Regions from separate parts of the Homo sapiens genome. Here region 2 is linked to region 1. The links come from fine-mapping of genetic effects on gene expression. A gene starts in region 1. The other region holds a variant in brackets. All regions are shown on one strand. Distances are from middle to middle.

What was found. PIP is the estimated chance that this variant, and not a neighbour inherited with it, causes the effect.
Region 2: its variant is fine-mapped to the expression of FKBP9 in whole blood (INTERVAL, PIP above 0.99).

What each region holds. Positions count from the first base shown.
Region 1 is chr7:32,955,972-32,958,887 of GRCh38, reverse strand. FKBP9 (FKBP prolyl isomerase 9) reads right to left here and starts at 1,448. Exons shown (of 10, transcript NM_007270.5): 1 at 1,094-1,448. The coding sequence starts at 1,314. RefSeq lists a silencer at 1,192-1,661 and enhancers at 1,752-1,801, 1,651-2,601.
Region 2 is chr7:32,976,625-32,979,540 of GRCh38, reverse strand. All of the region lies in intron 4 of FKBP9 (FKBP prolyl isomerase 9), which reads right to left. Among named protein-coding and RNA genes, the nearest start is that of FKBP9, 21 kb to the right of the region's middle. RefSeq lists an enhancer at 1-663. The variant ATG/G (reference allele first, on the strand shown) is at 1,753.

The sequences.
Region 1 (2,916 bases):
GACCAGGGTTTGTAACAAAAGCCTTGGCGAGGAGTAGCCTGGTGCTGGACGAAGAGAGGCCTGTTAACCCCGAACCTAAACTGGAGGGAAACGGGAGAGCAGTGCTGTGATCCTGAGGCAGAGCTGAGAGAAGGAGTTCTGGGCTTGATATAGGGCCTGGTATAAAGCAGAGTGACGGTCCTGGACTACCTCCTGCCCACGAGAGGTGTCGTGTTGTGTTTTGTTTTGTGATGGGATCTCTCTCTGTCTCCCAGGCTGCAGTGCAATGGCACGATCATAGCTCACAGCAGCCCCAAACTCCTGGGCTCAAGCGATCCTCCCGCCTCGTTCTCTCAAAGTGCTGGGACTACAGGCGTGAGCCACCACGCCCAGCCCCAAGAGAGGTTTTTGTATGGCAGGAAAGGAAGGGCAGTGGTAGTTGCGCACACAGACTCTGGAGTTGGATTAAACAATCTGACTCCATTGTTTAAACACGTTTCTTAGCCGCAGTTGCTTGTTACCTTACTGATAAAATGAGGGTAGTGATAGTACCTACCTCACAAGACTGCTGTACAATTAAATGAGTTCACTACAATATGGAAAGTACTTAGAACTACACCTACACATTGTTAACAGCTCATTGTATGTTTGGGGCTGCTAGCCTCTTCATCATTGTTCTGTGTGAGAAGCACCATCTGACTAGATTCCCAAGGGAGCGGAGGGAAGGAACAGGAAAGGGCGAAGAGAGGCAGGCACGAACATCCACTCTTGGGGGTCCAGTTGTGCAACGTGGCCTCCACTTACACTGATTATTTTACACTGATTTTGCGTGTGTCCATGCGCTGGGAGGAAAGGGAGGACGTGGTCTGCCCCAACCCCGCTGCTCAAGGTCCTCCAAGGGTCCAGTCCCCGGCTGGCAGCCTAGGGCACGTGAGGGCCGGGAGGCTCACCCGCGGCGGAGGGTCTGGGGTCCGGGAGGATCTGGGCAGCGGAAGAAGGGAGGAGCGCGGCTGCACGGGGCGGAGCTAGGGGAGGTCCGGCAGGAGGGAAAGGCCTGTCCGGAGAGAGGGACGCGCATCCGCTGAGGCCGCGCCGGGCGCCAAGGGCGCGGTACCTGGAGTCGAACTTCTGGCCGTCGGGGAACGTCCCCACGTAGTGGTAGCGCACGAAGTCGCCGCTGCGCACGGTGCGCGGGCACTCGTCGGGCACGAAGCGCCGCTCGATCTGCAGCTCCGCGTCGGAGCCCAGGCCCGCCACGGGCGCTGCCTGCCCGGTCACCCAGAGCAGCAGCAGGAGCAGCGGTGGCGGCGGGGGCCTCCAGCCCCGGAACGCCATCGGGGCGGCGAGAAGAGTGGCGCGGACGCAGCGCGGCGCTCGGGCGGCACGGGTCGGCCTGGGCGTTCGGCTGCGTTTGCAAACGTGGACCGGGTCTCCTGGCCCTACCCGGGCTGCAGCCGCCACCCCGTCTCCCCGGCCGCCCGCCCTCCCGGCCGCAGCTCCAGGGGAGGAGCCCAGCCTGGCCGCGCGCCGAGGGCGGGCCTGCTGCGCCCTGCCCCGCCCGGCATTGGGAATGTGCGTGCCGCAGCGGGGAGGGGGGCTGGGAACTCCAGTGGGGACCAAGTCTGGGCCTAGAGAGGGCGTGTCCCCGAGCGAGACACTGTGATCTCCGGACAAGGCTTTGGCCCAAAGTCGGAAGAGAAAAGCGCGTACTGCCCAAGCCCACCCGCTGGTCTCCGCCCGTCCCTGGAGACACCGGGTTTGGTGCCGTGAGGGGCTCCTACGTGGCCGTGGATCCAATTTTCCCTTGCTGCTTTGGAGAGGGAGGGAAAATTAGATTTTAATTTTTTAAGCTTAGTTACAAGGGTATGGTCTACCTTGAAAGAGACCGAAACCATCCTTCAGGACTTTTTTTTTTTTTTTTTAATACTGCTTAAAGGAAAAGGAAGGCCGGGCGCCGTGGCTCACGCCTGTAATCCCAACGCTTTGGGAGGCCAAGGCAGGCGGATCACGAGGTCAGGAGATGGAGACCATCCTGGCCAACATGATGAAACCCCGTCTCTACTAAAAATACAAAAAAATTAGCCAGGCTTGGTGGCGCGTGCCTGTAGTCCCAGCTACTCGGGAGGCTGAGGTAGGAGAATCGCTGGAACCCGGGAGGCGGAGGTTGCAGCGAGCCGAGATCGCGCCACTGCACACCAGCCCTGGCGACAGTACGAGACACTGTCTCCAAAAAAAGAAAAGGGAGGCATGTATTGCGAGAGGCTCCCGTGACACTTGTCTAGGCAAAAGTTTTAAGGCACCGTGAGGGTCCTCCAAGCCATCAGCGGCCGCACTGTGAGCTGATACTTGCAGACATCCTACAAGCTCCCATATACGAGCCTATGCCAGGGAGGACTTCATCATAGAGACCCAGAAGCCACAGGAATCCATTAGAGTAATCAGATGCACTTGGAATTGGAATTGGGTGTTATAATTTATTAAAATTTTGGAATAATGAAAGCAAATCACCAACTCTTTCTCAACTCGTTTTGGAAGCAAACACAATTCTGATACCAAAACCTGGCAAAGAGAGCAACAAAAAAGAAAAATAAAACTGAAAAAACAGGGCACGATCTAATTTATAAATATAAATGCAAAAATACTGAATAAAACGTAATAAAATCGGATTCAACCGCATATTAGGCCAGGCGCAGTGGCTCACACCTGTAACCCTAGCACTTTGGGAGGCCGAGGTGGTTGGATCACCTGAAGTCAGGAGTTCAAGACCAGCCTGTCCAACATGGTGAAACCCTGGCTCTACTAAAAATACAAAAATTAGCAGGGTGTGGTGGCACGGCCTGTAGTCCCAGCTACTTGGGAGGCTGAGGCAGAAAAATTGCTGGAACCTGGGAGTCGAAGGTTGCAATGAGCCGAGATTGTGCCACTAAATTGCACCAC
Region 2 (2,916 bases), 21 kb before region 1:
AAACCAGATGCCGCCAAGCCTGAGCTCCTTCCACTGGCCTTTGGCAAAGCCCACCCTGCATCTCCTTCCCATCCAAGGAATGATGAAATCTGCTGAAAGCCGGCTGCTGAGTCAGCCCCTGGAATGCAAGGTGTGGTCAATCCCTAAATCGCATGCGTGGGAGATAGAATATTAATCTTTTGTGCCTTACTGTATCTTTTCATTTAAGAGAAAAATGAAAGCCTTAAAAGTAACCATGGGGTTTAAATTTTTCTTTTCTTTTTTTTTTTCTTGAGACGGAGTCTCGCTCTGTTGCCCAGGCTGGAGTGTAATAGCTCAATCTTGGCTCACTGCAACCTTCGCCTCCTGGGTTCAAGCGATTCTCCTGCCTCAGCTTCCCGAGTAGCTGGGATTACAGGCACCTGCCACCACGCCTGGCTAAATTTTGTATTTTTAGTAGAGACGGGGTTTCCCCATGCTGGCCAGGCTGGTCTTGAACTCCCGACCTCAGGCGATCCACCCAAATCAGCCTCCCAAAGTGCTGGGATTACAGGCGGCAGCCACTGCGCCCGGCCTGGGGTTTCAATTTTTCTAGCATTAATGTGTACTAAATGAATAATGTTTTCTATAGCAACTTTGCAGAGATATAATTCACATACCATACAGTTCACCCATTTAAAGTTATACTTGGATAGCCGAGCACAGTATTCAAGTATAAAGTATTCAAAAATAACTACTCTAAATAAGCTATTATTTATTTAAAGTAAAGAAATAATATTTCTCATATTAGGCTCACATCTGGTTTTGTTATGTGGCTGATGACAAAAGGATCTGGGAGCCAACGTGAATGAACTTCTTGGGGCCAAGGACAAGACCATTTGAACATCAATAAGAAAACAGTAACTGCCAGGCACAGTGGCTCCCACCCGTAATCCCAGCGCTTTGGGAGGCTGAGGTGGGAGGATCGCTTGAGTCCAGGATTTCCAGGTAAGCCTGGGTAACGTAGCGAGACACTGTCTCTAAAAAAACTTTTTTAACTAGCCAAGCATGGTGGCACACGTCTGTACTCCTAACTATTCGGAAGGCTGAGGCAGGAGGATCACCCAGGAGTTTGAGGTTACAGTGAGCTATGATGGTGTCACTCCAGTCTGGGTGACAGAGTGAGACCCTGTCTCTAAAAATAATAATAACAGTATCTTATATCTCAGTGGGGGGGAGAATTAAGACATATTTATGGCACTGCTTTAAACTTTATTTTTCTTTTAGTAGGGAATTCCACCCCTAATGCTCTGTTTAAGAAACCATCTGCAGATCCCCAGCATGTAAAATATATAAAAGTGGGCCAGGCACAGTGGTTCACACCTGTAATCCCAGCACTTTGGGAGGCCGAGGTGGATGGATGGCTTGACCTCAGCAGTTTGAGACAAGTCTGGCCAACATGGCGAAATGCTGTCTCTACTAAAAATACAAAAATCTGCCAGGCATGGTTGCATACGCCTGTAGTCCAAGCTACCCAGGAGGCTGAGGCAGGAGAATCTCTTGAATCCAGGAGATAGAGGTTGCAGTGAGCCGAGATCGCACCACTGCACTCCAGCCTGGGCAACAGAGTGAGACTCTGTCTCAAAAAAAAAAAAAAAGTGTATATATATATGAGTATATATATATGAGTGTATATATACATATATATATATGGGCATGTATATATATATATGAGTGTATATATATATATGGGCGTGTATATATACATATATATATATAAGTATATATATATAT[ATG/G]GAGATAGAAAGGAGAGAAGGCTGAGCCCCATCACCTCAGGCTCCCTTCTGCTCCTGCTCCGCTCCACAGAGCCAGGAAAAAACGTTGAAAACATATTGGCTATTGTAAGCTGGCTATCACTATCAGTAAACTTCTTAAGAAGCATCATGTTCTCATTTATATCCTTAACTACAAAATCATGTGCTGCACAATGAAGTTTTGGTCAACAACAGACCACATATATGAGAGTGGTCCCATGAGATTATCATATCATGTCTTTACTGTACCTTTTCTATGTTTAGATACACAAATTCTTACCATTGTGTTACAGTAGCTCACAGGATTCAGTACAGATGCTGTGCAGGTTTGCAGCCTAGAGGAAACAGGTTACACCACACAGCCTAAGTGTGCAGCAGGATGTAGCACCTAGGATTGTGTAAGTGCACTCTATGGCATTTGCACAACAATGCAATTGCCTAATGATGCCTTTCTCAGAACATATCCCCATTATGAATCAACACATCATTGTATCCATCTGCTGTTTAAATGTCTACCGGTCTCTATGTTGTGCCAGCATGTCAATATGACTAAACGCACCTGAAATTCAAACATGAGTACCTGAGACATTCCATTTATCAGTCAATATTATGTGTTTTCCTTCACAGTAAAACTACAAACAGGACACTAGTTGTAATTAATGTGTTTTCTAACATTACACTTTGCTTTTGTCCATATGGAGTTAATGCCATAGGTAAAACTCATCATAGAGGTGCAAACGGGGAAATCTGGCAATTCTGACATTGTATGGCTAAATTTCTACCTGGATATCTGCAACTTTTATAGTGTCTAATTCAAGTCTCATTTCACAAATGTTAAAGCCAGAGAGGTTGGTGGCCAAGGCCATGGCAGGTACAACAGGGGCAGAGGGGGTTACTTATGAATGCCAATGACTATAAGTAAGTGGAAATTTCTGCAACTCAATCATCAGACAGCAGACAATCCAGACTAGCACTGTCAAATAGAACTTTCTGAGTGATGGAAATGATCTGGGTCTGTATCTGCACTGTCCACTATGGTGGTCCTCAGCAACGTGAGGCTATTGGGTACCTAAAATGTAGCAGTGTGACCAAGGAACTGAATTTTAAATTTTAGCTAATTAATAGCCACATGTAGCTAGTGGTT